2 separate regions of the Homo sapiens genome follow, and region 1 is linked to region 2. The links come from fine-mapping of genetic effects on gene expression. A gene starts in region 2. The other region holds a variant in brackets. All regions are shown on one strand. Distances are between the middles of the regions.

Evidence for each region. PIP is the estimated chance that this variant, and not a neighbour inherited with it, causes the effect.
Region 1: its variant is the best candidate, but not a certain one, in a credible set for the expression of SNRNP27 in whole blood (INTERVAL, PIP 0.69).

What each region holds. Positions count from the first base shown.
Region 1 is chr2:69,847,489-69,852,873 of GRCh38, reverse strand. GMCL1 (germ cell-less 1, spermatogenesis associated) reads right to left here. Exons shown (of 14, transcript NM_178439.5): 7 at 5,247-5,331; 8 at 3,132-3,222. Among named protein-coding and RNA genes, the nearest start is that of GMCL1, 21 kb to the right of the region's middle. The variant A/G (reference allele first, on the strand shown) is at 2,573.
Region 2 is chr2:69,891,113-69,896,497 of GRCh38, reverse strand. It overlaps SNRNP27 (small nuclear ribonucleoprotein U4/U6.U5 subunit 27), which reads right to left and starts at 2,542. Exons shown (of 6, transcript NM_006857.3): 1 at 2,480-2,542; 2 at 1,284-1,404; 3 at 1-62. The coding sequence starts at 2,513. RefSeq lists enhancers at 1,047-1,981, 2,180-2,239, 1,982-2,917.

The DNA of each region.
Region 1 (5,385 bases), 44 kb after region 2:
ATTAAGAAAACTTAAAAGAAATATACAAAAATATATGGCAGGTGTGGTGGCTCATGCCTGTAATCCTAGCACATTGGGAGGCCGAGGCAGGCAGATCACTCGAGGACAGAAGTTCAAGACCAGCCTGGCCAACATGGCAAACTCCATCTGTACTAAAAATACAAAATATTAGCTGGGTGTGGTGGCATGCACCTGTAGTCCCAGCTACTCGGGAGGCTGAGGCAGGAGAATTGCTTGAATCTGGGAGGTGGAGGTTGCACTGAGCCAAGATCGCACCACTGCACTTCCAGCCTGGGTGACAGAGCAAGACTCTGTCTCAAAAAAAAAAAGACAGACAGACATATGCCAAAATATAACGAGTGAGGGATCACAGGTGATTTTTCTATCCTATTTCCTAAGTATGCATCTTATTTATAATTTTAAAACTATTGAAAATGACTCTGTAAAATCTTCATAGAAAAACAAGAGCATCAGACATACATTTTGGTTTGTGCAATCAATGTCTCCTTGAAAAGTTATCTTGAACTGTATACTTTCACACCTCAGGGGCTGGGAGGGAGAGCCTCAAGTGGGAATCCAGAAGTGGACCACAGCTTGCTTCTCTAGTTTCTGCCACTTAGGCTACAGGGCAATTTCTCTTTTGATTGATTGCTGTGGTGGATCTATCTGGAGCACAAATGATCATAAGGTTCTATCAACATTTGCCTAATATCTACTGTTTCTACTGAGTCTCTTTGTCTTTTTAACTTCTTCACCATCCTTGTCTCTTTCAGCTTTTCTCTCTCTTCTATTTAAATGCTTTCCCCTACTTTTCTCCTCTATAATTTCCCTAGTCCTTCTTTAATTGCCATAACGTAACACAAAAGTATAATTTAAGATACAAGTTTAGTATTTTTGTTCTTCAAGGAAATCAAGTTATATTTCACTGATATGGTTCTTTACACATTTTTACTTCAGGAACTTTATAGAAAATTAATTTATCTGGCTCTGAGGTAGGTAATTTGACTACATAAAATAATTCTATAAAATGTATTTAACTAAGATATAAAGAGCATGAAATTTTAAAACTAAGAATATCTATTCATCAAAAGACATTTTTTTTCCTTTTGAGACAGGGTCTCACTCTGCTGTCCAGGCTGGAGTGCAGTGGTGTGTGGCCATGGCTCACTGCAGCCCTGACACCCCCAGGGTCAGGTGATCCTCCCCCCAGTAGCTGGGAATACAGACAAGTACATGCCACCACGCCCTGCTAATTCTTTTTTTTTGAGACAGAGTTTTGCTCGTTGCCCAGGCTGGAGTGCAATGGCGCAATCTCGGCCCCCTGCAACTTCCGCCTTCTGGTTTCCAGCGATTCTCCTCCTTCAGCCTCCCTAGCAGCTGGGATTATAGGCGACCACCACCATACCCGGCTAATTTTTGTATTTTTAGTAGAGACAGGGTTTCACCATGTTGGCCACGCTGGTCTCCAACTCCTGACCTTGTGATCTGCCCACCTCAGCCTCCCAAAGCGCTGGGAGTACAGGCGTCAGCCTCCCAAAGTGCTGGGAGTACAGGCATCAGCCTCCGTGCCAGGCTGCCCTGCTAATTCTTTAAACTTTTTGTAGGGACAGGGTCTTGATATGTTGCCCAGGCTGTCCTTGAACTCCTGGTCTCAAGTGAGCCTCCTGCCTTGACCTCCCAAAGTGCTGGGATTACAGGCATGAGCCACGGCACCCAACCAAAAAGACATCTTTAATAAATTAAAAAGATAACCTACAAACTGGAAGTGCAGAACATATGTATGACAAAGGATTAGTTATCAGGAATACATAAAGAATGCCTACAAATCAATAAGAAAAGACAAATCTGACATTAAAATAGGAAACATACCTGAACAGATATCTCACAGAAGAGGAAACATATGGCTAATAACCATATTAAGAGTCATTCAATCTCTTTAGTTATAAAGGACATTAAAATTAAGGCCACAATGTGACATAGTTCCATAACAACTAAAACAAAATGATATATTATACAGTGGCGTGTTGCTGCTAGCTCATAGGAGCTGTGTGCATCTCCTTTCTCATTCAGTGATGTCATGTTGGTAGCTTGCAATCAATCAGCCATGATGGGAAAATTTGTACCATGGGAATTAAGAAATGGTACTAATCAAGGATTATTTTTTCAGAGTCAGCTTATTAGCACACCACTATGTAATATATGTTAAGACGTATATACATGGTGCAATAATATATATTTATAAAGCAAAAGAATAAACATGAAGTTCAAGATAGTGGTTAGGAAAAGTCAGAGGGACACAATAGAAAAGAAGCACATGAGTTAAGACTGAAGTTACTGATGTTCTAGTACTCAAAGATTAGGTCACAAAGGCTCAACGTATTAAAAATAAACCAAAAAGGTGGCCATAAACTAAGAAAATCACGAACTAAGGATTTATCCAGTTCTTTGCACCTGACAGCCGTAAAAAATACTTTTTCTAGATATGTTTTAGCAAAGTAAAAAATAACATACATACATTTTAACTTAGTATACACATGTATTTTTTTTATATTGCATGCCCTCCTTTGCACAG[A/G]TAAGACCTTATAGCAGTTGATCTTAACCAATTTTAGATCAGTCTCCACTAAGAATCTGACGGAAGGTATGGAAGCTCTCCTCTCACAAATGTATGCAGCAGCACACACACATATCAAATTCTGTACCCACTTTTGGGAGTCAGTGACACATGAAAGCCTATCTATGGCCCCTATGTTAAGAATGGTTGCCTGACGGGGTATAGCTTGTTAGAGAAAACTCAGTGTGGTCAAGACAAATGCAATCAACAAGATCTGTTAGTGATAAAATGGGAAAAACAATAGTTTTTGGCGATCAAGAGTATGATGACAGTTCAAGGAGTAACAATTCAGATAATGATAGTTAAGGTATTTTTCTTATCTAGCCTTGATTTTCTCACTGTAAATGAGGGGTGAAGTAGATAATTGCTAAGGTCTTCTCCAAGCTCTAAAATTAAGTCTATAAACAAGTCAGGGCCTGATTTCATTTAATTAATTAATTTATTTATTTTCTGTTCTCATGGGGCCTGATTTTAACAAATTTCCTTTTAAAAGACAAGTTCTCAAAAACTTCAGGCCTACCTTTCCTCTGTTTAGAAAACCAGACATCTGTTTCTGTCAAAAGCTGTTTTAAAGATCCATTCCAAGAAGGCACAAGTTGAAGGAACATCCACTAAGTTAAAAAAAATTAAATAAGAAAACAATTATGAAATTTCATCATTTTATGATTTTACATTTTCAAATTGCTTTCACCTTAAAATATAATAGCTAAAAAATTTAACTTCTACTTTACCAGCAATTGCAAGAAAGAAAGTACAACTATAAGCACTCAATTTATCATGGCATTATCATAGTCCAATGGCTGGGTGCTGTGGCTCACACCTATAATCCCAGCACTTGGGAGGCCAAGGTGGGCAGATCACTTGAGAGAGGTTTAGACCAGCCTGGGAAACATGGTCAAACCCCATCTCTACACACAGAAAAAAAACTAGCTGGGCATAGTGGTATGCATCTGGAGTCCCAGCTACTCAAGAGGCTGAGGTGAGAGAACCTTTTGAGCCCTAGAGGTCGAGGTGCAGTGAGCCATGATCGCACCACTATGTTCTAGTCTAGGTGACAGAGCGAGACCTTGTCTCCAGGAAAAAAGAAAAAAAAATCATAGTCCAGTGATAAAAATTGGATGTGTGTGCTAAGGAGTAAGCCAATCCTTCAGAAGTATTTATGGTAACACACTGGAGATTACTGTATTAAAAAGGTAAAGGTTTAATATATATGTATATTAATTAGAAATTTTATACTAATTTATTCTACTAACAACTCAATTTCACTAAATACTATATGAGATTATAAAAGCAAGAAATGAACATGGGAAAAAGGAGCTTCTTTGTCTTACTGCTGCTGAGATAATACGCAGAGTAGGTAAGAGCAAAAACTTTTAAATCCTGAACCTGGCACTTAAGAGCCGGGCACATTACCTAGTATCTCTGGGCCTTAATTTCTTCATTTGTAAAATGAGCATGATAATATGTTTACCTCATAGGACATTAAAATATTTAATATACATAAATACTTAGAATGGTGCACGGCACGTAAACATCCTGTAAGTATTAGTACTTACCATTACTGGCAAAAAGCAGTTTTAATAACAGAAATGAATGCCACTGTGACAACTCACTGCAGGCTCCACCTCCTAGGCTCAGGTGATCCTCCCACCTCAGCCTGCTGAGTAGCTGGGACTACAGGCACGAACCACCACACCCAGCTAATCTTTTGTATTTTTTGTAGAGAGGGGTTTTTGCCATGTTACCCAAGCTGATCTTGAACTCCAGGCCTCAAGCGATCCGCCAGCCTGGGCCTCCCAAATTGCTGGGATTACAGGCGTAAGCCACTGTGCCTGACCTCTGCACCAATTTTTTAAAAGATTGGATAGCCCAGATAGTAAAGTTCCTTGAAGAAAAACAGTAACAAAATTTCACCTCTACCATAGAAACAAACAAACAAAGAGTCCCTATGAGATAAGCTAGAAAGTGTCTCAGTCTGAAGTTTCACAACTGTGTTAAATACTCACAACACTGTTTTGCGGACAAAAGGGTAAAGGCAGGATTATGCAGTAGGAAGAGGGCAATGGACTAGGACTCCCAAGACCCAGTCTCTGCCTCAAACCTGCTCTGAGTCTCACTATCTACATGGAAGAATAATGGCTGATCTGTGTCTTCAAAGAGTTGTGAAAATAAAATTAGATTTTTTAAATGTTGAAACTTTTCAAAAGCATGAAGTAAAACATATGCCAGACACACAAACAGGCCTTTAAAAGAAAAATTTCAACATTTCTTAGAAAAAGCGTGTGTAAAAATGCCATCATTAACTGAAGCTCAACTTTGAAAACGTTCCTAAAAACAATATAAAACATTTTTGATTATGTAAATAAACAAATAGCAATAACATATTTTTTGTTAAAGAAAAGTCTGGGAAAAAACAGAAAAGTATTCCTAAAATAGAAAAGTACAAAAAATAAAGTTAAAATCACTAATGATTCCAAATCCCTAAATATAAAGACTTTTTAAGGTTTCGGCCTATTTCCTTTTCCTACATTTATAACCATCCCTTTATTACTGGATACTGTTTCCAGTTTTTCACCATTATACGCATTGCTGAGGTGACATCCTTGTATAATATGACATCATATTACGTCAGTACCTTTTTTAGAGCAGTGTATATATCCATCTCCACTTGCATCACAAATAAGTTAGATGAACCAATGAGCTGTTTCATGACATTTATACTGAAAAGGATAAATAGAGGGAGTGAGCTTATCTTTAGGCACAGGCTAAAGGAT
Region 2 (5,385 bases):
CATCTCTTCTTTCTTTCAGTCGAGAAGGGGAAGGAGATGTGGATCTATGTCGTCTTGGAGATCTAATATTTATAAGCAAAGATGTTAGAAACAGACAGACATATCAACTTTGTATCAATCAGCACAGATATACATGAGGTGAGCTCCACAGAACCACGAGTCATTCCGTATAGCAAAGTGAGGAAAAAGGTTCTGCCAAGGCCTTGATTGTTAACAAAAAAATTTTTTAATGTAGTTTACTGCTTAATCATCAGTTGCATTCAGTACAACTAGGGCTAGAAAGCTTTCTGGAAGGCAGAAAAATGTAAATTAAAAGTTTCTAACAACCACACACAAATATACAAAAAAGCTGACTTAAACAGCAATTGATGGTTATTAAGACTCAGAGCCAGGTGGGGCTTGGTGGCTCACGCTACTAATTCCAGCACTTTGGAAAGCAGAGGCAGGAGGATTGCTTGAGCCTAGGAATTCAAGACCAGCCTGGGCAACACAGGGAGACCCTCTCTCTCAAAAAAAAAAAAAACAAACCAAAAAAAAGACTCAGAGCCCATTTCTAATGTTCTTCCAAGATCATCCATTCTTGATTACATACTTGAATAAATCATTATCACCAAAAAGTTAATAAAAAAGAAACAACAGGCCGGGTGCAGTGGCTCACGCCTGTAATCCCAGCACTTTGGGAGGCCGAGGTGGGTGGATCACGAGGTCAGGAGATCAAGACCATCCTGGCTAACACGTTGAAACCCCGTCTCTACTAAAAATACAAAAAAAATTAGCTGGGTGTGGTGGCATGTGCCTGTAGTCCCAGCTACTTGGGAGGCTCAGCAGCAGAATTGCTTGAACCAGGGGAGGCAGAGATTGCAGGGGAGGCGGAGGTTGCAGTGAGCAGATTGCGCCGCTGCACTCCAGCCTGGGTGACAGAGCGAGACTCCGTCTCAAAAAAGAGGAAAAGAAAGGAAAAGGAAAAGAAAAGGAAAGGAAAGGAACGGAAGAAAGAAACAAAAATATAAAATACTTATTTCTTTTTCTTGCCAAGCACCATGCTCTGGGGTTTGCATGCATTATTTCTTACTTACTCTTTCAAGACAACTTTGTGATGTAGAGTACTATTAGCACCATTTAACCAAGGTGAATGTTAGCTTTAGAATAAGGTTGGATTAAGTTTCCTCCATTTCAGGAAACCGTAAATCCCCTTATAAGCGATGAAAACAAAGTTAAGAGCTGCGACCAGTTTCTTAGGGACTTTCGGTAAATAAAACTCTTGGCTTATTTTCTGCCCTTACCGGGAGCGTCTTCGGTGCGGGGATCGCGAGCGGCTCCTTCTCCGATCTCTCTCCCGAGACCTGGACCTTTCTCGGCGCCTGCGTTCTCTCTCCCGGGATGTGGACCGGGAACGCCTACGTTCTAATGCAAACGCACACAAATTGCAGAACTGATAATTACCTCAAATATCTAGAGCTGCGCCGTCCAGTAGAAAAATAATGCAAACCATTACTAGTCACATTAAAAAGGTAAAAAGAGGCTGGGAGCGGTGGCTCACGCCTGTAATCCCAGCACTTTGTGAGGCTGGCGGGCGGATCACAAGGTCAGGAGTTCGAGACCAGCCTGGCCAACGCGGCGAAACCCCGTCTCTAATAAAAATACAAAAATTAGCCAGGCGTGGTGGCACGGACGGGTAATCCCAGCTACTCGGAAGGCTGAGGCATGAGAATCGCTTGAACCCAGGAGGTGGAGGTTGCAGTGAGCTGAGATCGGCCACTGCACTCCAGCCTGGGCGGGCGACAGAGCGAGACTCTGTCTCATTAAAAATAAATAAATTGATTTAAAAAAAAAACGAATCAGGGGCAGAACCGAGGGTCTAAGTTAGATCTCCTAATGGAAGTCCAGGGTTCTTTACGTCGCGCTGCCTCATTTATGGGGCTGGTAGCCAGAAAACATTACGAAGTGAGCTCCCAGGACTCAAAATTCTTAATATCGATTTCCCTGTAATGACCTGGGCAGGAATCTAACATTTATTAAGTATTTAAGAACCAGGCAGAATCACATACTGTATGTTATGGGATGTGACATTAATTCTCACATCAGTTTTTAAAAGTTGGCAATACTACCCTCAATGACTCATTCTGGGAATTCGATTCAGAAAGGCTGAGTAGTGACTTGCCCACCGTCGCCCAGAAATTCAGCAAAGGAACTGAGGTCTAATTCTAAACCCACCGGCCACAGTGTAATAAAAGTTATTGTATGAAGGTGACAAAGACTTAATGAAACTAATTCAGAGACAAACAACTGCCTTCAAACCGGAGAGGGCGGGCTGAAGAGGGCAGGGCCCAGGTCTACGTTCCTTTATCCACCCCTCGCTCTCCGCCTGGGAAAAGGGCCCGCCTCTCTGCTACGCGGCTACCAAAAACAAAACAAAATAAAACAAAAGGGACAGGCCTCCAACAGAGCCCCATATCCTCCGAATTGCTACAGGACTCACCCCTCCGTGGAGAGCGGCTGCGACTGCGACCCATTTGGAGTCCCGCTTCCCGGAAACAACTGTGCAACAACTTCCGGGAGGGCCGGGAACCGAGCTTTTACCGCCGACCAGAAAACGTCAAAACGAGTTGCGAGGGTTCCGGTCTTCTTTGTTCACGGTGGGCATTAAAACATGCGATTTGGTGTTATTATAGAAATTCCTGGAAAATTCAGCCGTATACCCATTATCCTAACACAGCTTTCATTTTTCCCCCATTTTTGTCCACATGCACAAAATAGAGCAAACCAATTGTAAACATAGCATAGACAAACAGCTTATGTTCTTCCACTTTTCCACATAACATTCATAAGGAGTGAATATACCAAAGTTCACTGTCCATCTGCTTTATATTTTCTCATGCCAGCATTGAGAAGGCACCCAAAACCTCCTATGGGCTCTTGGAAGGAAAACTAAAGGCCCCAGATTCCATCCTACCCGACAAAGTACTTCCCCAAAGTTGCCTCTGTCCTCAGGGAAAACAACAACAACAACAACAAAAACTTTAGAATGTTCAAAACTACAAAAATTAGGAGAAAGACTGTCTTGCCCCAAGGCTGAACCGTCTGTGGTAGAGCATAAATATGCTTACCAGGAAAGACTCAAACCTCTATTTCTTATTTTATTTTATTTTGTTCCAGGGTACATTTGCAGGATGTGCAGTTTTGTTACATAGGTAAATGTGTGCCATGGTGGTTCGCTACACCTATCAACCCATTAAGCCTTGCATCTATTAAGCTATTCTTCCCAATGCTCTCCCTCTCCCCAGCTCCTCCCCCTACAGGCCCCAGTGTGTGTTGTTCCTCTCCCTGTGCCCATGTGTTCTCATTGTTCAGCTCCTACTTATAAGTGAGAACATGCAATGTTTGGTTTTCTGTTTCTGTGTTAGTTTGCTGAAGATAATGGCTTCTAGTTCCATCCATGTCCCTGCAAAGGACATTATCTCGTTCCTTTTTATGGCTGTGTAGTATTCCATGGTGTATACGTACCACATTTTTTTAATCCAGTCTATCATTGATGGGCATTTGGGTTGATTCTATGTCTTCGCTATTGTGAATAGTACTGCAGTGAACATATGCGTGCAAGTATCTTCGTAATAAAATTATTTATATTCCTTTGGGTATATACCCAGTAATGGGATTGCTGGGTCAAATGGTATTTCTGGTTTTAGGTCTTTGAGGAAACACCACATTGTCTTCCACAATGGTTGAGCTAATTTACATTCCCACCAACAGTGTAAAAGTGTTGAACCTCTGTTTCTAATCAAACCAACTCTTTTCAGTCAGCTCTCTCTAGAATTATCAAGTCTAGTGACCTGGCTTTTAAAATACAAAGAGCTGGGGGATGGAAAGGGACTTTATTAGGTTGGAAAAAATGCCCACCAATCACATAAATTTTTAATTAGATTTATACATTCAGAGTGGCCTGTTTAATACCTGTCCCAACCCAAACTTCCAGGAAAGATCCAGCCATGACATCTAGGATTTCTACCAACAGCCCCAACCCCCAGATGCCTTTGGAATTACCCTGGCAAAGCATGCACTAGGTGTAGAATGGGGAGGTTCAAGGGAGGTGCAGACCCCAGGGAAGAAGATTTAGGGACATCATTGGAGAAACACACCACTAATGATAGCCAGGCGTGGTGACGCATGCTTGTAATCCCAGCTACTTGGGAGGCTGAGGCAGGAGAATTGCTTGAACCTGGGAGGTTGAGGTTGCAGTGAGCTGAGACTGCGCCACTGCACTCCAGCCTGGGCGACAGAGTGGGACTCCGTCTCAAACAAAAAAAAAAAAAAAGAAAGAAGAAGCACACCACTAATGATTGAAGAAATTATCCACAGGAAAGACAGGATTTATGGGAAGCCTAAGGGGGTATGTACTAGATGTGTAAGAGAGGAAGAACATGGTGGCCTCAGGTGGTGGCTGAAAATACTCTTTCTTTCTCTTTCTCTTTCTCCTTCTCCCCTCAGGGCTGGGGTCTCATCTGATGAAAATGCTTTTTAAGAAACCCCTCACCCGGCGCGGTGGCTCACGCCTGTAATCCCAGCACTTTGGGAGGCCGAGGCGGGCGGATCACGAGGTCAGGAGATCGAGACTACAGTGAAACACCGTCTCTACTAAAAATACAAAAAATTAGCCGGAGGTGGTGGCGGGTGCTTGTAGTCCCAGCTACTCGGGAGGCTGAGACAGGAAAATAGTGTGAACCTGGGAGGTGGAGCTTGCAGTGAGCCGAGATCGCGCCACTGCACTCCAGCTGGGCGGTAGAGTGAGACTCCGTCTCAAAAAAAAAAAAAAAAAAAAAAAAAAAAAGAAACCCCTCTAGGACTAAAAATGATTGGAAGGTATGCTGGGGATCAGTTGAATACACAAAGATTTTTTGAATGCATGCGATGCACAGGACACTATACCCCTTTGGCACTAGATTGAAAAGATGAGTAAGACATGGTCCCTGCCTCAAGGAGCTTGCACTCTAGCTGTGGAGGCAGACAGAGGAAGACACCTCTTCACTGTAATGTGGTAATATAAAATATGCACAGTGTGCTAAGGTGACATGAAAGAAGGCTATTCAGCCTAATTTGTCCAAGAGGGTTTCCTGGAATAATAATAATAGCTAATACATACTGTGCTAACTAAATGCCAGGCACTGTTATAAAAATGTTTATGTACACACACATTCACACACAATTAGTTGAGCTGTGAGACTGAAAAGAATACATTGTCCAAGCGAAGAGTAGGAGTAGCAGCAATAGCAAAGGCACAGAGATGTGTCACATTATGACATACACAAGCACTGAAAGAGGTTTGATATTATCATCACTTTGAGTTCACCATGGCAGACCTTACCAAGTACCTGGGACTTTATCCTTACA